Linked DNA regions of Homo sapiens: regions 1 and 3 are each linked to region 2. The links come from fine-mapping of genetic effects on gene expression. A gene starts in region 2. Each other region holds a variant in brackets. All regions are shown on one strand. Distances are from middle to middle.

What was found. PIP is the estimated chance that this variant, and not a neighbour inherited with it, causes the effect.
Region 1: its variant is fine-mapped to the expression of GIMAP6 in whole blood (TOPMed, PIP 0.97).
Region 3: its variant is fine-mapped to the expression of GIMAP6 in whole blood (INTERVAL, PIP above 0.99).

Annotation. Positions count from the first base shown.
Region 1 is chr7:150,582,678-150,590,864 of GRCh38, forward strand. No RefSeq gene overlaps it. Among named protein-coding and RNA genes, the nearest start is that of GIMAP4, 19 kb to the left of the region's middle. RefSeq lists an enhancer at 3,849-4,028. The variant C/T (reference allele first, on the strand shown) is at 4,918.
Region 2 is chr7:150,628,788-150,636,974 of GRCh38, forward strand. GIMAP6 (GTPase, IMAP family member 6) reads right to left here and starts at 3,598. Exons shown (of 3, transcript NM_024711.6): 1 at 3,382-3,598; 2 at 1,271-1,355. The coding sequence starts at 1,355. RefSeq lists silencers at 540-740, 760-960 and enhancers at 3,009-3,088, 3,359-3,448, 3,459-3,548.
Region 3 is chr7:150,606,304-150,614,490 of GRCh38, forward strand. It overlaps the pseudogene TRPC6P3. Among named protein-coding and RNA genes, the nearest start is that of GIMAP6, 22 kb to the right of the region's middle. The variant T/A (reference allele first, on the strand shown) is at 4,138.

The sequences.
Region 1 (8,187 bases), 46 kb before region 2:
ATTCCGTATACCACTGGGGCTATATGAGTAGGCAGCAAACTGTTTCTCATAAATGCAGAATTTTGGCAGACTGACAAACTGCATCTTCCACCCAGAAGGGATATTGAGGGCAGTTACACCCCAAGCACGATGTTTCTTGTGATTAGGTACATCTGAAGCTTGTTAGTAATCATATGAACCTGTGATCAATTAAGAAGCGGACCAGTAGTTACCTCCTGCTCTCTGGCCATTCTACCCAATAAATACGAAGTGCAGTAGAAGCTCAGGGGCTGCTTTTGCTCACTAGAAGGAGGAGTGCTATTCTTCTTCCCCAGTTCCCCTTCCTATAAAAGTTTCTTTTGTCTTAAGCTTTCATTTCTACGTTTGTCCCTTCATTCCGTCTTGTGATGATGGTTTCAAGTAGTAACAGTAGTAACTGTCATAGTGACAGTCTCAAGTAATAACCATGGCAGTCAGCCAAAAGTGGCACCTGAACAGGGACAAACAGGGACTATCAGAGACAAAAAGAGACCTGAAGGGACCTGAAGAGGCCTGCAGGGACAAATAGAGATAAGGAGGGATAAATGGAGATAAATAGACAAATAGGGACAAATAGAGATAGGTAGGGAAAGACAGGGACTTGCAAGAACTTGCAGGAACTAACAGGGGCTATAGGGACTGAGAGGGACAGATAGGGATAGATAAAGACTAGCAAAACTTGCTGGGACAGATAGGGAGAGTTGGGTCCTAAAGGGACTTGAATGAGGAAGGTCTGCTGGAACAGAAAAAACCAAAGCCCAGAAAAAATTAAAACCAACCAGACGAATGAGAAACCCTGTTACAAGTCTGCCTGCAGCAACATAAGGTCAGGGCCCTAGAGGTACAAAGAATGGGAAGTTTTTGAATCAGGGTAACATGGGGAAGAATTTGGCTATTTCTTCGCTCTTTTGTTTGGAGTTCGGTACGTACTATCTTTTTGTTATTTCAGGGTTTTAGGGAATTTTTTGCCCCACCTACAGCACCTATCAAAAGTAGTGAACAGGAGAGGGAGAATGGAAATTGGCTTGTACCATCTTCCTTTGTGGCTACAGAAAGGCTAACTTTAGCTTTGGCTTTCTGGGATTGTAAACCTGCATTGGCACCTGTGAGATGTGCAGAGAACTTGGGAGGTTTTCTCGGAGCTTGTCGGGATGTGGGAACTGAGCTTCATTGCTCTGCAGTATTGACTCAGACAATGGCTAATTTGGTAGCTGACAGATCTAAAAGAAGCCAAGGGTCAAGCCCTAATGTGGGAAAGTGTTATAAGTGTAGAAAAATTGGACATTTCAAAAAAGAACACTGCCAGACCTCTGGGCAAAAGGGATCTTGTAACACAGTTCCCCTCTTAACAGAAAAAATGCCAGGACTTGGCCCTCATTGCAATAAAGGGAATCATTGAGTTAATCAATGCCACTCAAAGTTTCATCAAAATGGCAGCCCCCTCTTGGGAAGTGAGAAGGGGGCCTGGACCCTGGCACCTCAAAAAATGAGGGCATTCCCTGTCCAGAGAACAGCTTCATTTCAGGGATTGGTTTCCAGAGGCATATTGATTCCCTCTCCCCAGGAACACCTGGAAGCGCAGGATTAGATGGCCCAGTTAGAGAGCAGGTTACGTTAATTGGAAGAAACAAACTCACTAAGATTCCCATTGGCATTTGTGGACCTTTGCCAACAGGATACATGGGATTAATTTTGGGCAAAAGCTGTCTTAACTTACAGGCCCAGGAGTTGGTAATTGGGATTGTGAAGGAGAAATTCAAGCAGTGGTAACGTCACAAGATCTTTGGGTTTTTGAACCAGGAGAATATATTGCTCAACTGTTGCTTATTCCCTATAAATTGTACCCCTCTCTACATAAGAAGAAGTGAGGAGGTCAGGGATTTGGAAGTGCAACTGGGAGAGAGACTTACCTATCACAACCCGTGGCATCTAATAGACCCACCTATACAGTGCAAATCAAAGGAAAGAAGTTTTATGGGCTTATGGATATAGGAGCTGATGTGTCAGTGTGTCAGTAATATCTAAAAACAATTGGCCCCTATCTCGGTCCCTAAAACTATCTTCTACATCCCTAGTGGGAGTAGGAACAGCTCAAAGTGTTCAACAGAGTGCTGAGATTCTGTCATGTCTCAGACTGGATGGGCGGTTCGTGTTTTGTGTCTCAAGGTTTAAAGGAGTCTTTTGCCCTGCACGTTGAACCCACCGGGGGTGGAGGGCAGGAGAGGGAGGATGAGAATTGGCCTGTACTGCCCTTTTCAGTAGTAGAGACACCTGTACTATCTTCTGAAGCAGAAACAGAGACCCTAATAGTTAGGCAGGAATATCATCACCCCTATTCAGCCTGAAGAAGTTACAGAAGACAGATCTTCATCCCTCTGCAACCCTTAGGATTAAGGGTCCTCTTGTAAAGGGGGAGATATGTCAGAGGCATTCAAACCAGGGCCGTTTCACTTGTTTCTGGGACTTCAACAAGCTGTTCACTCTCATGCTGCTCCTTTTCATGTTTCTAATGTTCACCCTCACACACTGCTCCCTGGGCTGCTCTCTTTGGGTGGTGATGGAATGAGAGACTGGAGAAGGATAAGCCTCGATTTGCTCTCTGTGTGCCTTCTGTTAATCAGAAAGAGCCAGCCTCTCATTATCAATGGAAAGTTTTACCCTGCGGTAATTAACCAAAGAGACAGAAGCTGAGTTACAGGTTGCAGAGCAGACGCTTCAGCAACGGCATGCCTCCCGGCTACAGCCACAAAAACTTTTTGCTTCTGCTTTGCTAGATTTACTAACGTGGGGGCGAGGGTATGCTTGTGTTTTCACAGCAAATGAACAAACCATGTGGGTGCCCTCAAGGTGTGTACAACCATGGAACAGGAGATTGGAGGGAACCATGGATCCCAGCCACAGGCCTGGTTCCCCCAGTGTGAGCCATGAGCCAGTTGAATCTGAATGTGAAGACGAACGAACCACCAACCAGCAATTGAAGGCTGCACATTTTGCAATTGCCTTATTCAATTAATTCAAAAACAAAAAGGGAGAAATGTTGGAGGACAAAAGATTGAGGGTCGTGGTCAATTCAGCATACCACTGGAGGCTATATGAGTAGGCAGCAAACTGTTTCTCAAATGCAGAATGTTGGCAGACCGACAAACTGTGTCTTCCACCCAGAAGGGATACTGAGGGCAGTGACGGCCAAGTGCAATGTTTGTTGTGATTAGGTACATCTGAAGCCTGTTAGTAATAATGTGAACCTGTGTTCAATTAAGCAGCTGACCAATCATTACCTTCTGCTCCCTGGTCATTCTACCCAATAAATACGAAGCGTGGTAGAAGCTCAGGGGCGGCCTTTGCTCACTAGAAGCAGGGAGCCCTTTTCTTCTTCCCCAGTTCCCTTTCCTTTAAAATGGTTTCTTTTGTCTTAAGTTTTCATTTCTATGTTCGTCCCTTCATTCAGTCTTGTAATGACGGTCTCAAGTAGTAACAGTAGTAACTGTCATAGTGACAGTCTCAAGTAATAACCATGGCAGTCAGCCACAAGATGATTTGGCACTGCTGAAGCATTCATAGAGCAGCATTCATCATCTATCTGACCTTTTTGTGGGAAATGTTTCCTAGCCCATTCAAGACACTTATGCTCATTGATGCTGGGTATACCCAGGACAAAGTAGTTTTGATCTTGTATTTTGACTACTTGCTATCTGTCTCCTACAGTTATGGCTGATGAAGAACACTTCCTTATTCACCATTGGATTCCAATATCCTGGAGTGTGTGAAGCACTCGTTAAATATTTTTCACCCATTTGGCAGTGGTACATCCCCCTTGCCCTTGGAGAATGGTAAAACTTGGCTCAAGCTGCATTTCCACAGCACACAGAATCCAAACTCCCTCCTGCAGGGAGCTTTCTGCACTCACTTCCTCATCCTTCCCCTACTTCCTCCTGCGTGTGCCACTGTCCTCTGTCTTACCCCATTTCATGCACTTGCAGTTCATTCACTTGAAGTTCAGTTTTCTGCCTAGTTTCCACCATCATAATAGTGATCAGCATTATGTAAGCTTCAGCAGCTTTCCTAGAGATTTTGAGTTACAGGGGAAGGTACCAAAGACAGCACTGGGCATTTCTATACCAAGCTCACTCTCCTCCCTCTGGCTTGGAAAGAGAAACTGTTTATCCCTCTACACCCAGGAGGAAACAACTCTGGAGTTGCTTAATAAATTGTCATCTTCTCAGGAATGCAGATGACTGATCAATTCCAGGATGTTAGAGAGCCTGACACCCACTGGAGCACTTCCTACTATTGTTTTAACTTTCCAAAAACAAGAAACAGACTGTCCTTTCCCCTTTGCCCTGTGGTGACCAGACATGACCTTCATTTTTGCTTTCTCTTTCCACTCTACAGTCACCAATGAAGGTCTCCTTCTGGCAGCTCTGCCTGGGTCAGATTCTGTTGGTTTTCTCTCCTGGGGCTGTCACTCTGTGGTTGTCAGGTGGCCCAGGATGGGGAATAACTCCCTTCTGTTCCAGTAGGAGGATTAAGACACTTACTTTGAGCTCTGGTCCCAGCTCTGGTCTCTACTCCATCTTTATTAGAAAGTCATATCCTTCTGGTAAAAAGACGGTATTTTGCCTGATTTGATTGAGTTCTTTGTGTGTTCTATGTCCTTCGGAATCCTGCAGGGGAGAAGGGTCTTTGGCACCCTGTCATTTACTAGGAATGTTGGAAATAGGGGAAATGCCTTGAACATTAGGTGTTAGGAATGCCAATTCCCAGGTTCCACTCTACACCTACTTCCTCAGAAAGTTTGTATTTTAACAAGCTTAAATGCATGCTAATGCTAGAGGTTCTTTGAGAATGCAATATTTGCTTCATAGACATATAGAAAAATCAGCTGCCAACATTCAAAAA[C/T]ATTAATAGAATTTTTTCAGCCATGTTAGCCTGAGTACTTTCTTCAGAATGGATTGTCTGCATTTTATCATTTCTCCAATTTCCATGTCAAGGCCCAGGTTTCCAGGTTACTAGACACTAGCGTTTTATACAGAAGTCTAGGTAATAAGATATGGAAACCCACATCCTCTTCTAGGGGAAAAGAGCCAGAGGGGAATGCAGAAAAATAAAGCAGTCAGATGTGTATCCTGAGTTTTGTCTCTCCAGATGTTGGCTCAGGAAATAGATATATTAGATATCAGAGTTCTACCCATCCCTTGAACCTTGGTCTGGGGAGTACTTTCAGAGTAACAGTCTTTCTAATGTGGCTGTGGCCACGTGTAGTTCCTCATTTTGAGGATCTAAACACCTTTACTTTTTGTCTGGTTTTCATCACTCTATGTTGCTTTCCAATATTTTATTCTTTTTAAAAAAATTATACTCTAAGTTCTGGATACGTGTGCAGAACGTACAGGTTTGTTACATAGGTATACACGTGCCATGGTGGTTTGCTACACCCATCAACCCGTCATCTATATTAGGTATTTCTCCTAATGCTGTCCCTCCCTCAGCCCCCCACCCCACAACAGGCCCCGGTGTGTGATGTTCCTCTTCCTGTGTCTATGTGTTCTCATTGTTCAACTCTCACTTATGAGTGAGAACATGCAGTGTTTGGTTTTCTGTTCCTGTGTTAGTTTGCTGAGAATGATGGTTTCCAGCTTCATCCTTGTCCCTGCAAAGGACATGAGCTCATCTTTTTTAATGGCTGCATAGTATTCCATGGTATGTATGTGCCACATTTTCTTTATCCAGTCTACCATTGATGGGCATTTGGGTTGGTTCCAAGTCATTGCTATTGTGAATAGTGCTGCAATAAACATATGTGTGCATGTGTCTTTATAGTAGAATGATATATAACCCTTTGGGTTTATACCCAGTAATGGGATTGCTGGGTCAAATGGTATTTCTGGTTCTAGATCCTTGAGGAATTGCCACACTATCTTCCACAATGGTTGAACTAATTTACACTCCCACTCTTGGGTATACACCCAAGGGATTATATATCATTCTACTATAAAAATGAAAAAGCGTTACTATTTCTACACTTTTACACTGTTGGTGGGCGTATAAATTAGTTTGACCATTGTGGAAGACAGTGTGGCAATTCCTCAAGGATCTAGAACTAGAATTACCATTCGACCCAGCCATCCCATTACTGGGTATATATACCCAAAGGATTATAAATTATTCTACTATAAATGCACATGCACACATATGTTTATTGTGGCACTATTCACAATAGCAAAGACTTGGAACCAACCCAAATGTCCATCAGTGATAGACTGGATTAAGAAAATGTGGCCCCTATACACCATGGAATACTATGCAGCCATAAAAAAGGATGAGTTCATGTCCTTTGTAGGGACATGGATGAAGCTGGAAACCATCATTCTCAGCAAACTATCACCAGGACAGAAAACCAAACACCACATGTTCTCACTCATAGGTGGGAATTGAACAATGAGAACACATGGACACAGGGTGGGGAACATCACACACTGGGGCCTGTTGTGGGGTGGGGGGAAGGGGGAGGGATAGCATTAGGAGAAATACCTAATGTAAATGAGGAGTTGATGGGTGCAGCAAAACAACATGGCACATGTGTACCTATGTATCAAACCTGCATGTTGTGCACATGTACTCTAGATCTTAAAGTATACTAATAAAAAATACATATATTTTTAAAAAGTGTTCCTATTTCTCCACATCCTCTCCAGCATCTGTTGTTTGCTGACTTTTTAATGATGGCCATTCTAAGTATTATGAGATGGTATCTCATTGTGGATTTGATTTGCATTTTTCTAATGAGCAATGATGATGAGTTTTTTCATGTTTTTTGGCGCATAAATGTCTTCTTTTGATAAGTGTCTGTGGATGTTGTTTACCCACTTTTTGATGGGGTTGTTTGTTTTTTTCTTGTAAATTTGTTTATGTTCCTTGTAGATTTGGATATTAGCCGTTTGTCAGATGGATAGATTGCAAAAATTTTCTCCCATTTTGTAGGTTTCCTCTTCACTCTGATGATAGTTTCTTTTGCTGTATAGAAGCTCTTTAGTTTAATTAGACCCCATTTGTCAATTTTAGCTTTTGTTGCCATTGCTTTTGGTGTTTTAGTCATGAAGTCTTTGCCCATGCCTACGTCTTGAATGGTATTGCCTAGGTTTTCTTCTAGGGTTTTTATGGTTTTAGGTTTTATGTTTAAGTCTTTAATCCATCTTGAGTTAATTTTTATATAAGGTGTAAGGAAGGCATCCAGTTTCTGTTTTCTGCATATGGCTAGCCAGTTTTCCCAACACCATTTATTAAATAGGGAATCCTTTTCCCATTGCTTGTTTTTGTCAGGTTTGTCAAAGACCAGATGGTTGTAGTTGGATGGCATTATCTTTGAGGCCTCTGTTCTATTCCATTGGTCTATATATCGGTTTCAGTATCAGTATCATGCTGTTATATTTACTGTAGCCTTGTAGTATAGTTTGAAGTCAGGTAGCATGATGCTCCAGCTTTGTTCTTTTTGCTTAGGATTGTCTTGGCTATATGGGCTCTTTTTTGGTTCCATATGAAATTTAAAGTAGTTTTTTCTAATTCTGTGAATAAAGACAATGGTAGCTTAATGGAGATAGCATTGAATCTATAAATTACTTTAGGCAGTATGGCCATTTTCATGATATTGATTCTTTCTATCCATGAGTGTGGAAAGTTTTTCCATTTGTTTGTGTCCTCTCTTATTTCCTTGAGCAGTGGTTTGTAGTTCTCCTTGAAGAGGTCCTTCACATCCCTTGTAAGTTGTACTCCTAGGTATTTTTTTCTCTCTGTAGCAATTGTGAATAGGAGTTCACTCATTATTTGGCTCTCTGTTTGTCTATTATTGGTGTATAGGAATGCTTGTGATTTTTGCACATTGATTTTGTAACCTGAGACTTTGCTAAAGTTGCTTATCAGCTTAAGGAGATTTTGGGCTGAGAATGGGGTTTTTTAAATATACAATCATGTCATCTGCAAACAGAGACAATTTGACTTCCTCTCTTCCTGTTTTTGAATACTCTTTATTTCTTTCTCTAGCCTGATTGCCCTGGCCAGAACTTCCAATACTATGTTGAATAGGAGTGGTGAGAGAGGGCAGGTTTGTCTTGTGCTGGTTTTCAAAGGGAATGCTTCCAACTTCTGCCTATTCAGTATGATATTGGCAGTGGG
Region 2 (8,187 bases):
TGACTGGGGAAGAAGGCAGGAAGGGAATTCCCTTCTCCTGGCCTTGCGGGTCCCAAGACCCAGAGCACATAAAGAAGTGACAAGTAATAGCTGGTTTCCCAGTCTTGTCCCCACTGAAGACATTGATGTATCTCAGATGACAAAGCATGAAGCTGGCATGTGGCAGCATGGGCGTGGCCATCTCCTGAATCTCCTGGGCACCAACAGGCCTTGCTGTGGCCTGACAGCCACCCTTGGCTCTGACCCACGTGCCAATTCTAACTGAGTGACATTGGGCCCCCTCCAGCTTCCCCAAGGTGGCTGGAAGGAATTTGAATGAATGGGCAGAAGTCTGGGCAGTAGATCTTCATCCCCACCCACCTAGCCCAGTGCAGAGCCAGAGGAGACAGGAACCCCCATCTGAGCAGCCTGGAGCTAGCACACACCACTGGACTTTACTAAAGCCAAATGCATCACTTGAGCTCTGGAGAGGATTCTTAAAAGAATAGCTAACCTTGATTGCTATAACAAAAGGTCAAACAGGTGTTACACAGGTATTGGTAATGTCCCTATTGTAGTAGGTTAACGTGGCTTTTTCCAGATGGCTCAGGCCATTTAAGTTCATAAAGTAAAAGGTCATTCATATTAAAATACATAATGAATCACAAATCATTTCTTCTGGCCAGGAAAGGGCTGGGTTTCCAGCATTTGTAAATCCTGCCTCCCCAGGATGAATGACGAAGTTGAGCCCATGAAAGTTAAGCGCCTGACCCTGTGCAATGGCTTTTGGGAAAGGGACGCCCTCGATAAGGCAGAGCCCAGATCTGAGGCAGCAGCCAAGTACATTCTGCTTGTGCACAAGGCGCTTTCAAACTTACAACTGTGACAGCTCCACTTCGGAGTCAGCCAAACACCCATACAGGGTCTGTTGGCATCCAAGCCTCAGTCCAAGGCCACTTATTTTCGTCACACGCACTGTCAGCACATCCATCCTGAGGAAGAACATCTACCATGTGAAAGCATTTCCTTTGGGACTGGCATGGTGATTTAGTCATTGGTGCTATTTCTCGCCTCCTTTTATCTACCATACCTATCCAGGGGTCTTTTTTCTTATTTTTGGCTAGTGATAAGAAGGGCCCTACCCCAAAGGCCTCTGATGGTGGCTGAGGCGGGTAAATTTCTGTGACTGGGGGACGTCAGCTTCCTCTCCAAGCACACTATGGTGGTGGAGCTGTGTCCCACCTGCACCCCAAATGTTTCCCACTTGCTCCCCTCTCCTCATTCATTTTACCTCCTGACAGCTCCAGCACAGGATCCTGGGACAGCTCTTCTGGGGGATTCTCCTGGGGAATTTGTTCATATTCTTCTTCCTCCATCTACAAAAAAAAAAAAAAAAAAAAAATCATATGTTCTACTGACTTTCCAAATGAGTTTCAACAGCCACCTGCCTTTCGCCTTTCTCTTGCCAGAGGAAAGTTTTTTGCATTAGTTTAGGGTTGGGGTGGGACTGAGTGAGGCAATGGAAGAAGGGGTCTAAGACACTCTCTGCTGGCTTTAGGGACCCTATTTCTTTAGGGATGCTATCCCTCGCCCCCTTCATTGTGGTCTCCATCATAAGTTTAAGAGATTTTACAGATAAAGGTGCAACTGGCCTGGGAGCTGAGGAATGGATGAAATTTGGATAGACAAAGGGTCTGGAACTGTTCTGGGAGGTGGGGGGAGGTGGAGGAAGGGAAGAAGGAGGAGGTGGAGGAAGGGAAGCACAGAAGCAGGTGTGATTCTGATCCTGTGTTCCCTGGGAGCAGCAGGAAGGCCTGGTGTGCCTGGAGGACGTGAATGAGTAGGATGTTGTTGGGAGGGGCCACTTGGTGGGCCTTGGGGCCAGACTTTGGAGAAGACTGTGCAGTGAGGGTTACAGAGGACTGGGATTGCAGGGGCTGAGCTGGGAAGGAAGCCAGAGACCTCAGGGGAGAAGCAGCCACCAGTTAGCTCTGTCTGGGCCTCAGCATCCCATCAGTAAGAATGTTGGGCCTGAACTAGATGCCTGTGAATGTCTCTTCCCCTATTAAGGTCTCAACATACTTCATAACATTTTTTAGAGCAATTCTTAGTCCTTTTTGCAAATTAGGGCCACATCATTCCCAACCAGGAACTCCTGTCCCCTTTCCCATGACAGCAATGTGTCCTGGCTTCATAGACTAACACAGTTCTCTGTGCCAAGATCCCATAAGGTTCTCTCTGCTGGATTTTCTCTGTGGGACTGAGGAGGAAGTTGCATGGTCCATGACTGTTTTTCCAGATCATGTAGGACATTCACAACCAGATGAAACAGATCCAGATGAAGGGTCTGGGGTGTGGGGAAACCTAAGTCCAGGGGAACCTGATAGACATGTTTTTCTCATTGCCACATTGTTAGATGTTTGTTCTATTCTGTTCACCTGGCAAACACTCCAGTCCTCCCCAGATCCCAGAAGTATATATGCGGATATTGCTTTATGATTGGTAAAGATCAATTTTGCAGTGCTGGGCTGGGCATGGAGGGAGTCCAGGAAGGTCTGTTGACTTTCTAGGAAGAAAGAAGAAGCAGGCCAGGCGGACAGCCTTACTCAGACCTGAACAGCCAGATTCTGGAAGGAGTACAATATTTCACCTACCAAAGGGAGTTAGTTCTTCCTAACTGGTGGCCTCTCAATCTCTTTGTCCCTGGCTTCCTTACATCCCTGGTGGAAATTGAGGCAGCACTTTACCAATGTAATCTCATTCCTCCTTTAGAGAGAACGGGCAGGCAGCTTAACAGGAAACAACAGCCGGGTGGGACTAGGCTGTGGCATGCAGGAACCTGCACTGTGCCTTCGCAGGGTTCGGGGAATGGGTCTGCACGCAAGGCACCTCCCTGCCTCCTCCTAGACCCTCCCCGGAATGGCACCTCCCATGTTGGCCACAGTGTGCATTGTCTCCAACACAGAAGATGGAACAGATAGTACCATCCTTGTCATATTGCTCTGGAAGAAAGCAAAACTCAGAGAAGCATCTTGCCAAATATTAAACAGTGACTTTGTCACAAGGCAAAAAGTTCTCCAGACGTGTTGGTCACAGCTCTTTTTATCACATTACAAACCTGCACACACCACAGCACACACAAATACACAACACACACACATACACAAAACACATGTACCACTCACACACATGCAGGTGAACACACAAACACATACACAAACACAAATATACATACACAACACACACACAACACTCACATACACACACAACACAAACATCACACACACAAACATCACTCACACACATTCATGTTAACACATACAAACATGTAAACACACATGTACAACACAAACACCCACACATACACATCCAAATATGACACGCACAAATACTCAGACTTACCTCTGCACCAGCTCACAGGCAAGAGAAAGGACCACGTTTCTGGTCTCCCGGCCACGCACTCTCACGGAGGAGGCAGAGAAAAGCTTCCACAGTGTATGAACACAAGGAGGACAAGGCCGATGTTTGCTTATATTTTCAGCAAAATGTTTTCAGAGAGCTGGGCTGGAGACCTGCCCTTGAAAGAGCAGTGTCCGCTGGAGATGGAGGAACAGGAAGTGGGTAGGAGCACCGGCCTTCCTGAGTCAGAAGAGTCTGCTGTTGCACTTTGCAGCCTCGGAAGTAGAAAAAGGGAGGATACCAGTGGTGGGATTATTTTTATCCTGAGCCAGGATAACTAGAACTCAGAGCTTAAAAAGAGGCAGATGCCTCAGAAAGATTTGTGTCAGGAGGAGTGACTTTCCCTGATCTCTCTTTTCTGAACCCCACCTCTTCCCCAGGGAACTTCTATGCCTCAGTATTGGGGCAAACAGTCATTGTCTCCTTTCTTCCCCAACCTCTCCTTCCTTTAATAGTTTCTCTCAGGACAAGGTCTGACACTCATTACCTCTAAGGCATGAATCATTGGTAATTACAATTGTTACAGCTTCTAGAAGATCTGCACTATAAGAAAAGGGAAAATACAAAAGAATGTCTAAAATGTAGGATTAAAGAGAGCACTTGTTATGGGGGAAGAACAATATTTTAAACACAGGCCAAGGGAGAAAACACCTCAGCATCCTCAAAAACATGTTTTCTAGGACTTTACTGACAGATCTGATAACTGTGGCTAAAGGGAAGCCATTGAAGGAAGAAATTCAGAACATAGGAGCATAGGTGATGATATTGTTACCACATGATTTTAAAATGTTAAGATTCCCTAAAAAAATTCCACTCAATCTACTATAATAGTTCTAATTTTCTTTGGTTCTGTTCTGGTTGATAATCATGGTGTATTTATTAAAATTGTTACATAGTATGTGTGTGTGTACATATATATATCTTTTAATGTTCTACTTAAATTATTCTGTAAATACCCTGACACAATTAATTTTTTTTTTTTGAGACAGAATGTCATCCTGTCACCCAGGCTGGAGTGCAGTGGTGTGATCTCAGTTCACTGCAACCTCATCCTCCCAGGTTCAAGCGATTCTCATGCCTCAGCCTCCCAAATAGCTGGAATTACAGGCGTCCGCACACCCGGCTAATATTTTGTATTTTTAATACAGACGGGGTTTTACCATGTTGGCCAGGTTGGTCTCAAACTCCTGACCTCAAGTTATCTGCCCACCTCGGCCTCCCAGAGTGTTGGGATTATGGGCGTGAGCCACCGCGCCTGGTGTAACATGATTAATTCTTTTTTTTTTTTTTTTCTCGAGACGGAGTCTCGCTCTGTCGCCCAGGTTGGAGTGCAGTGGTGCGGTCTTGGCTCACTGCAAGTTCCACCTCCTGGGTTCACGCCATTCTCCTGCCTCAGCCTCCTGAGTAGCTGGGACTCCAGGTGCCCACCACCACGCCCAGCTAATTTTTTGTATTTTTAGTAGAGATGGGGTTTCACTGTGTTAGCCAGGATGGTCTCGATCACCTGACCTCATGATCTGCCCACCTCGGCCTCCCAAAGTTCTGGGATTACAGGTGTGAGCCACCACGCCCAGCCACTTAATTAATTCTTAAAAGTCATGTGTTGATCTTTACCATTCCATTGCCTAAGTGTTTAGAAAGTATTTAGAATGTTATTACTCCACCCATAATTGAAATTAACCATCTATTTTGAATTTTAATCATTTCCATCTTCTGCAAGCTGACTCTGGAGAGTTGCCCAGACCTGCAGTTGACTGAGCCAGGGATCAATCAGCTCAGCGTTTAGCCATGAGAATTGGGAAGTGTTTGTTACTGCAAGGTAATCTGGCCTAATCTAATTGATACAGCATATAAATCTGATGTTGGTTCTTTTGGTTTGTTTTTTATTTTTTGCTGACTCTCACTTTTGGTGATTTCTTTTCTGGAATTACATTCACAGTCTTTGATTGTGAACTTAAGTATGGAAATCCTTGGGATTGAAATCAAGGTGGCTTTACTCCAGAGAAGATTTGTGTACATTTTTATCAGGAACTGACAAGGGGGTGCTGGTACTACTAAACTGAGACCACTTCAACCCCATTTTCAGATTTCTGGCTTAATCCAGAAATTCCTCAATCTACAACTCACTTTACAACTGATTCCAAATTTAGGCTCCAGAGAGTATGGCTGAGAGCTTCATTTGCTCTTGGGGCAACCAATCTTCCCTTTGAGTTTATGGCTCTACTCCTGTTTCAGTTTATTTATTTATTTACTTATGTATTTATTTGGTTATTTAAAAAAATTTTGCCCACATGGTGTTATCCCTCACTTCCTGCAAGCCAAATAATGTAGTCCATTGTTTTGTTGAGGGAGGACTTCTCTATGCTAACACAGCATATTTACAAAGAATGTAATTCACAATCTCTGTTATGATCTTGTTTCTTTTTTTATTATTATTATACTTTAAGTTCTGGGGTACATGTGCAGAACGTGCAGATTTGTTACATAGGTATACACGTGCCATTGTGGTTTGCTGCACCCATCAACCCATCCTCTACATTAGGTATTTCTCCTAATGCTATCCCTCCCCCAGTCCCCCATTCCACAACAGGCCCCGGTGTGTGATGTTCCCCTCCCTGTTCCATGTGTTCTCATTGTTTGATTCCCACCTGAGTGAGAACAGGCAGTGTTTGGTTTTCTGTTCTTTTGTTAATTTGCTGAGAATGATGGTTTCCAGCGTCATCCATGTCCCGGCAAAGGACATGAGCTCATTCTTTTTTATGGCTGCATAGTATTCCATGGTGTATATGCACCACATTTTCTTTATCCCGTCTATCATTGATGGGCATTTGGGTTCATTCCAAGTCTTTTCTATTGTGAACAGTGCCACAATAAACATAGGTGTGCATGTGTCTTTATAGTAGAATGATTTATAATCCTTTGGGTATATACCCAGTAATGGGATTGCTGGGTCAAATGGTATTTCTAGCTCTAGATCCTTGAGGAATCGCCACACTGTCTTCCACAATGGTTGAACTAATTTACACTCCCACCAACAGTGTAAAAGCGTTCCTATTTCTCTACATCCTCTCCAGCATCTGTTGTTTCCTGACCTTTTAATGATCACCATTCTAACTGGCGTAAGATGGTATCTCATTGTGGTTTTCATTTGCATTTCTCTAATGATCAGTGATGATGACCTTGTTTTCATATGTTTTTTGGCTGCATAAATGTCTTGTTTTGAGAAGTGTCTGTTCATATCCTTCACTCACTTTTTGATGGGGTTGTTTGTTTTTTCTTGTAAATTTGTTTAAGTTCTTTGTAGATTCTGGATATTAGCCCTTTGTCAGATGGATAGATTGCAAAAATTTTTTCCCATTCTGTAGGTTGCCTGTTCACTCTGATCATAGTTTCTTTTGCTGTGCAGAAGCTCTTTAGTTTAATCAGATCCCATTTGTCAATTTTGTCTTTTGTTGCCATTGCTTTTGGTGTTTTAGTCATGAAGTCTTTTTTCATGCCTATGTCCTGAATGATAATGCCTAGGTTTTCTTCTAGGGTTTTTATGATTTTAGGTTTTAGGTTTAAGTCTTTAATACATCTTGAGTTAATTTTTGTATAAGGTGTAAGGAAGGAGTCCAGTTTCAGTTTTCTGCATATGGCTAGCCAGTTTTCCCACTACCATTTATTAAATAGGGAATCCTTTCCCCATTGCTTGTTTTGGTCAGGTTTGTTGAAGATCAGATGGTTGTAGATGTGTGGTGTTATTTCTGAGGCTTCTGTTCTGTTCCATTGGTCTATATATCTGTGTTGGTATCAGTACCATGCTGTTTTAGTTACTGTAGACTTGTAGTATACTTTGAAGTCAGGTAGCGTGATGCTGTACTACAAGTCTACAGAACTTTGTTCTTTTTGCTTAGGATTCTCTTGGCTATGCAGGCTCTTTTTTTGGTTCCACATGAAATTTAAAGTAGTTTTTTCTAGGTCGGTGAAGAAAGTCAATGGTAGCTTAATGGAAATAGCATTGAATCTACAAATTACTTTAGGCAGTATGGCCATTTTCACAATATCGATTCTTCCTATCCATGAGCATGGAATGTTTTTCCATTTGTTTGTGTCCTCTCTTATTTCCTTGAGCAGTGGTTTGTAGTTGTTCTCCCTGAAAAGGTCATTCACATCCCTTGTAACTTGTTTCCTAGGTATTTAATTTTCTTCATAGCAATTGTGAATGGGAGTTCACTCACGATTTGGCTTTCTGCTTGTCTATTATTAGTGTATAGGAATGTTTGTAATTTTTGTACATTGATTTTGTATCCTGAGATTTTGCTGAAGTTTTTTTATTAGCTTAAGGAGTTTTGGGGCTGAGATGAGGGGTTTTCTAAATATACAATCATTTCATCTGCAGAGACAATTTGACTTCCTCTCTCCCTATGTGAATACCATTTATTTCTTTCTCTTGCCTGATTGCTCTGGTCAGAACTTCCAATACTATGTGAATAGGTATGGCGAGAGAGGGTATCCTTGTCTTGTGCCAGTTTTCAAAGAGAATGCTTCCAGCTTTCGCCCATTCAGTATGATATTGGCTATGGGTTTGTCATAAATAGCTCTCATTATTTTGAGATATGTTCCATTAATACCTAGTTTATTGAGTGTTTCTAATATGAAAGGGTGTTGAATTTTATCGAATGCCTTTTCTGCATCTATTGATATAATCATGTGGTTTTTGTCATTGGCTTTGTTTATGTGATGGATTACATGTATTGATTTGTGTAT
Region 3 (8,187 bases), 22 kb before region 2:
ACCGAGTAGGCCAACTGGGAGGCACCCCCCAGTAGGGGTGAACTGATGCCTCACACGGCCGGGTACTCCTCTGAAACAAAACTTCCAGAGGAATGATCAGGAAGCAGCATTTGGGGTTCACCAATATCTGCTGTTTTGCAGCCACCACTGCTGATACCCAGGCAAACAGGGTCTGGAGTGGACCTCCAGCAAACTCCAATAGACCTGCAGCTGAGGGTCCTGACTGTTAGAAGGAAAACTAACAAACAGAAAGGACATCCACACCAAAAACCCATCTGTACGTCACCATCATCAAAGACAAAAGGTAGATAAAACCATAAAGATGGGGAAAAAACAGAGCAGAAAAACTGGAAACTCTAAAAATCAGAGCACCTCTTCTCCTCCATAGGAACGTAGCTCCTCACCAGCAACAGAACAAAGCTGGATGGAGAATGACTTTGACAAGTTGAGAGAAGAGGACTTCAGATGATCAAACTACACCGAGCTAAAGGAGGAAGTTCCAACACATGGCAAAAAAGTTAAAAACCTTGAAAAAAAATTAGGTGAATGGCTAACTAGAATAACCAATGCAGAGAAGTCCTTAAAGGACCTGTTGGAGCTGAAAACCAAGGCATGAGAACTACGTGATGAATGCACAAGCCTCAGTAGCTGATTCAATCAATTGGAAGAAAGGGTATCGGTGATGGAAGATGAAATGAATGAAATGAAGTGAGAAGGGAAGTTTAGAGAAAAAAGCATTAAAAAAAATGAACAAAGCCCCCAAGAAGTATGGGACTATGTGAAAAGACCAAATCTACGTCTGATTGGTATACCTGAAAGTGACGGGGAGAATGGAACCAAGTTGGAAAACACTCTGCAGGATAATATCCAGGAGAACTTCCCCAATCCAGCAAGGCAGGCCAACATTCAAATTCAGGAAATACAGAGAATGCCACAAAGACACTCCTCGAGAAGAGCAACTCCAAGACACATAATTGTCAGATTCATCAAAGTTGAAATGAAGGAAAAAATGTTAAGGACAGCCAGACAGAAAGGTCGGGATACCCACAAAGGGAAGCTCATCAGACTAACAGCTGATCTCTCGGCAGAAACTCTACAAGCCAGAAGAGAGTGGGGGACAATATTCAACACTCTTAAAGAAAAGAATTTTCAACCCAGAATTCCATATCCAGCCAAAATAAGCTTCATAAGTGAAGGAGAAATAAAATACTTTACAGACAAGCAAATGCTGAGAGATTTTGTCACCACCAGGCCTGCCCTAAAAGAACTCCTGAAGGGAGCACGAAACATGGAAAGGAACAACCAGTACCAGCCACTGCAAAAACATGCCAAATTGTAAAGACCATCAAGGCTAGGAAAAAACTGCATCAACTAACGTGCAAAATAACCAGCTAACATCACAATGACAGGATCAAATTCACACATAACAATATTAACCTTAAATGTAAATGGGCTAAATGCTCCAATTGAAAGTCACAGACTGGCAAATTGGATATAGAGTCAAGACCCATCAGTGTGCTGTATTCAGGAAACCCATCTCACATGCAGAGACACACATAGGCTCCAAATAAAGGGATGGAGGAAGATCTACCAAGCAAATGGAAAACAAAAAAAGGCAGGATTGGCAATCCTAGTCTCTGATAAAACAGACTTTAAACCAACACAGATCAAAAGTGACAAAGAAGATCATTACATAAGGGTAAAGGGATCAATTCAACAAGAAGAGCTAATTATCCTAAATATATATGCACCCAATACAGGAGCACCCAGAATCATAAAGCAAGTCCTTAGTGACCTACAAAGAGACTTAGACTCCCACACAATAATAATTGGAGACTTCAACACCCCACTGTCAACACTAGACAGATCAATGAGACAGAAAGTTAACAAGGATATCCAGGAATTGAACTCAGTTCTGCACCAAGTGGACCTAATAGACATCTACAGAACTCTCCATCCCAAATCAACAGAATATACATTCTTTTCAGCACCACACCACACCTATTCCAAAATTGACCACATAGTTGGAAGTAAAGCCCTCCTCAGCAAATGTAAAAGAACAGAAATTATAACAAACTGTCTCTCAGACCACAGTACAATCAAACTAGAACTCAGGATTAAGAATCTCACTCAAAACTGCTCAAATACATGGAAACTGAACAACCTGCTCCTGAATGACTACTGGGTAAATAACGAAATGAGGGCAGAAATAAAGTTGTTCTTTGAAACCAATGAGAACAAAGACACAATATACCAGAATCTCTGGGACACATTCAAAGCACTGTGTAGAGGGAAATTTATAGCACTAAATGCCCACAAGAGAAAGCAGGAAAGATCTAAAATTGACACCTTAACACCACAATTAAAAGAACTAGAGAAGCAAGAGCAAACACATTCAAAAGCTAGCAGAAGGCAAGAAATAACTAAGATCAGGGCAGAAATGAAGGAAATAGAGACACAAAAAACCTTTCAGCAAAATCAAGGAATCCAGGAGCTGGTTTTTTGAAAAGATCAAGAAAATTGATAGACCGCTAGCAAGACTAATAAAGAAGAAAAGAGAGAAGAATCAAATAGATGCAATAAAAAATGATAAAGGGGATATCACCACCGATCCCACAGAAATACAAACTACCATCAGAGAATACTATAAACACCTCTACGCAAATAAACTAGAAAATCTAGAAGAAATGGATAAATTCCTCGACACATACACCCTCCCAAGACTAAACCAGGAAGAAGTTGAATCTCTCAATAGACCAATAACAGGCTCTGAAATTGAGGCAATAATTAATAATTTACCAACCAAAAAAAGTCCAGGACCGGATGGATTCACAGCGGAATTCTACCAGAGGTAAAAGAAGGAGCTGGTACCATTCCTTCTGAAACTATTCCAATCAATAGAAAAAGAGGGAATCCTCCCTAACTCATTTTATGAGGCCAGCATCATCCTGATACCAAAGCCTGGCAGAGACACAACAAAAAAAGGGAATTTTAGGCCAATATCCTTGATGAACATTGATGCAAAAATCCTCAATAAAATACTGGCAAACCGAATCCAGCAGCACATCAAAAAGCTTATCCACCATGATCAATTGGGCTTCATCCCTGGGATGCAAGGCTGGTTCAGCATATGAAAATCTATAAACATAATCCAGCATATAAACAGAACCAAAGACAAAAACCACATGATTATCTCAATAGATGCAGAAAAGGCCTTTGACAAAATTCAACAATGCTTCATCCTAAAAACTCTCAATAAATTAGGTATTGATAGGATGTATCTCAAAATAATAAGAGCTATCTATGACAAACCCACAGCCAACATCATACTGAGTGGGCAAACTGGAAGCATTCCCTTTGAAAACTGGCACAAGACAGGGATGCCCTCTCTCACCACTCCTATTCAACATAATGTTGGAAGTTCTGGCCAGGGCAATCAGGCAGGAGAAGAAAATAAAGGGTATTCAATTAGGAAAAGAGGAAGTCAAATTGTCCCTGTTTGCAGATGACATGATTGTATATCTAGAAAACCCCATCGTCTCAGCCCAAAATCTCCTTAAGCTGATAGGCAACTTCAGCAAAGTCTCAGGATACAAAATCAAAATCAGCTACTAAATGGGTGAGAAGCATTTAGTGAGTGCTTAACGCACTCCAGGACGTTGGAATCCAATGATGAACAAGGAAGTGTTCTTCATCAGCCACAACTGTAGGAGACAGACAGCAAGTAGTTAAAATACAAGATCTAAACTACTTTGTCCTGGGTATACCTGGCACCAATTAGGTATCTTTTTTGAGAAGGAAATGTTTCCACAAAGAGGTCAGATAGATTATTTAAAATGGTAAACTGAGGCACAATCAGATATATAGTGTTTATTTGAGTAACAAGCAATTCATGAATTGGGAAACACAAAACCAAAAGAGGGTTAGTGTTTCAATGACAAAGAATCAGAGGCAAAGATTTGTAGGATGAATGTGGATGCAAAATAAATACAGTATTTGATTGTTTGCAGCTATAATATCATCTTTTTTGGTTTATGTTGTTGGAAATCCCTAAACTCATGAACATATATTAGTCAGCTGCTTATGATTGGCTGAGACTAAGTTTCATTTCTGTTCAACATAAGCATTTACCAGAAA[T/A]GACCCAAGTTAAAATTTTGCTTCTGTTTGCAGTTTAAGCAATGTTAAGGCTATTTTTAATTTTCCATTGGTTTTGTTTGCTCAGCAATGTTTAGGCCCGGTCTCCATTTTAATTGTGCTTTAAGAATTTTCCCTTTTTAGTTATTTCTTCAGCAAGCTGACAGTGTGACCAAATGGCATAGCATTACTCTCAGTTACCAATGTTGATGTAGTCCTTGGAAAGAAAAGTCAGGAAGATGTTGTTGTCATCATTAATCGTTATGCTGGGGTTCAGAGTTACAAAGCTACTGTGAACAATTACTTGGTCCATATTCGTTTCCTTGAGTTGGCTGATCCTAAGGGCAATCTTTTGACATGTGAGTGGCCACTGGAAAGAATAAAAACCCTTGATAGAATGTAATGCACCAGGAGGTAAACACAATAACTATAAGGAGAATAATAGCCAAGAATTGAAAAATTCCTCTGAGCAAAGATTCCCAGGAGTCAAATTTAATCCACTAAAGAAATCAATGCCCATTCAGTATGATATTGGCTGTGGGTTTGTCATAGATAGCTCTTATTATTTTGAGATATGTCCCATCAATACTTAATTTATTGAGAGTTTTTAGCAAGAAGGGTTTTTGAATTTTATCAAAGGCCTTTTCTGCATCTATTGAGGTAATCATGTGGTTTAGGTCGTTGGTTCTGTTTATATGCTGGATTACATTTTATGATTTGTGTATGTTGAACCAGCCTTGCATCCCAGGGATGAAGCCCACTTGATCATGGTGGATAAGCTTTTTGATGTGCTGCTGGATTCGGTTTGCCAGTATTTTATTGAGGATTTTTGCATCGATGTTCATCAGGGATATTGGATAATCCTGCTGCTATAAAGACATCATGCTGCTATAAAGACACATGCACACATATGTTTATTGTGGCACTATTCACAATAGCAAAGACTTTGGAACCAACTCAAATGTCCAACAATGATAGACTGATTAAGAAAATGTGGCACATATACTCCATGGAATACTATGCAGCCATAAAAAATGATGAGTTCATGCCCTTTGTAGGGACATGGATGAAACTGGAAACCATCATTCTCAGCAAACTATCACAAGGACAAAAAACCAAACACCGCATGTTCTCACTCATAGATGGGAATTGAACAATGAGAACACATGGACACAGGAAGGGGAACATCACACACTGGGGCCTGTTGTGGGGTGGGGGGAGAGGGGAGGGATAGCATTAGGAGATATACCTAATGCTAAATGACGAGTTAATGGGTGCAGCACACCAACGTGACACATGTATACATATGTAACAAACCTGCACGTTGTGCACATGTACCCTAAAACTTAAAGTATAATAAAAAACATTAATGGAGAAGGTGGGACTTGTCTGATGAAAGATTTATATTTGTTTCTTAAGATCCTTTAAATTGGAGGCAATAATTTCTAATTTGTTAACATAGAAACATCTTTATCACTATAAGCAGAATCTTCTTTCACAGTTTTTTATTTGTACAAATTTATAGGGAACATGTGAATTTTTGTTACATGTACATAATGCACAGTGAAGGGTATTTAGGGTGTCCATCACACAAATACAGTATATTTTTGTTTAACTATAGTCACCCTACTCTGCCATCAAACACTGAACTTATTACTTCTATCTAATTTTATGTTTGTCCCCTTTAACACAATTCTCTTCATCCACCCTCTACTTTCTCAGTCTCTGCTATCTTTTCACTCTTTTCTACTTCCATGTGATCGAATCTTTCAACTCCCACATATGATATTTCAACTCCCACATATGATATTTTAACTCCCACATGTGATATTGTTCTTCTTGTGCTTGGCTTATTTCACTTAAGATAAAGACCTCCAGGGAGATCTGACAAGATGGCCGAATAGGAACAGCTCTGGTCTGCAGCTCCCAGCAAGACCAATGCAGAAGACCAGTGATTTCTGCATTTCCAACTGAGGTATCCTATTCATCTAGGAAGTGGGAGCAGCTCATGTGTTGGGGTGATTGGACCCAACACCAGGTCATGGGGGTGACGAAGTCTGGCAGAGTCAAAGGAATGAGAAAAGACGTTTGAGAGAGAAAGTGGGCCCAGGGGTCCAACGTGAGTATGGAGGCTGCGAAGGTCCCAAGCTCTGGAAGCCCAGACTATTTATTGGTGATCAAACAAAGAAACAGGTGGTGAGAATGTGGGGTTGAAAGGGAGTATTGCATTAAGCACATGATTTACAGCTGTGATGGTTTAGCATATGCTCTGCTACTTGAGATAATGGAGAGAAGGTTCTTCTAACTCAAGATACAATCGATCCTGGGAGAGCAAGAAGCAAGGAGCCAGCATCTAGACACATTCCAGAGGCCATGAGGGGTTTTATGCCCTGAGCCCTGGATTCTATCCAAGCCATGAGGGGTTTTATCCCCTGGGCTTAGATTATGGTGCATCAGGGTAGCCTTCCACCCTTTAGCACAGAGCTTGGTGTTCCAAAGGCCAAGAGAGGTTTCAGACCCCGGACCCTGGACAGGTTCCAAGACTTTTTTACATTATGTCAGACATGCAAGCCCTGCCTCAGTTTTTCCCAACACTCAGCTTTTCCCAACATACCCCCCTTTTCTTTTTCATAAAACCACCACAGCTATCATTGCTTGTTCTTGATGGCAGCTTTCTCTTCAGAGGCGGTTTCCTCTTCAGAGGCAGCTTCTGCATCTGCAGACTAAAAGGAGACAGCACAAGCACACAACAACCAGAAAGAAACCCACAATGTAGAGCCTCCAATGGCCTTCAACTATAAATCTTTTGGAACGGGATAAGAGTTTTTTAAGGATCTCAGTTACAATATAAATACTTGGTGATGTTTCCCATAGTCTATTTAGAGACAGAGGGATCAAACTCCTTCCCTGGCTTTAATTATCAAGATAGTTATATTTTCATCAAAGGTTGAATTAATGCAGGTAAACAAGCAACAATCAGGGCATGTAATAAAGTGTGTATTATATCAAGAGTAACATTTCCTATTGCTAGCACGACTTTGAATCCAAAAGGTCCTGCTGGAGAGAAAAGAAAGAGCATTTTCATCCTTACCTCCTTCCCCTCTATTCCTTTTATATTTGCCCTCTCAGATTTTGATTGGACTTTGAGCCATAGCTAATTTCCATAATTCAGAATGTTCTTGTCTGTCCCTGCAAATCTCTGCTTGTCTTTGCTAGTCTCTACCTTTGTACCTCTTTAGGGCACTGACCAGTACCTCTTTAAGGCACTAACCTTATATTGCTAGTCTTTGCTTTTGTACCTCACTGACCAGTACCTCTTTAGGGCACTGACCAATACCTCTTTAGGGTACTGACCTTATATTGCTGGTCTTCATCTATCCGTATCTGTCCCTGTCTGTCCCTATGGTACCTGTTATTTCCTGTGAGTTCCTGCAAGTCCCTGTATTTTCCTACCTATCTCTACTTATCTCTATCTCTACTTACTTATCTCTATCTCTATTTACCTCTATCTCTATCTCTAGTTATGTCTATCTCTGTCTCTATTTATCTCTATCTCTATTTATGTATATCTCTATTTATGTCTATCTCTACTTACTTATCTCTACATCTTCCTGGAAACCTTTTTTATGACCCACATCAGCATCATCCTCAATTTCCTGGAACGAATTGTTGATCATGGCAATTAACATATTTAGCAAAACAATGACCATTGTAACATTACAGACTCCATAAAGAACATAACCAATGTTTTCAATGAATTTGTGGTTATAGTTGATGATCACTGATTTCACTTCAGAAAGTCCAAATATAGCCCAGAACATTGTCTTAAAACTCTCTTCAACGTTGTGAAGGCTTCATTTTGTTTTGCACCAATGTAGTAGGAGTAGAGGTTGAACATTCCAATCATAAAGGCCACAAACACCATAATGAATATGACCATGAACCTGAAGATGTCTTTGACTGCTCCTCCAAGTGACGTCTGCAGAGGTCCAAAGCTTTCATTTGCTGGCAAAATACAAGCTATCCCAGAGAAACTCAAAACCACAGCAACTG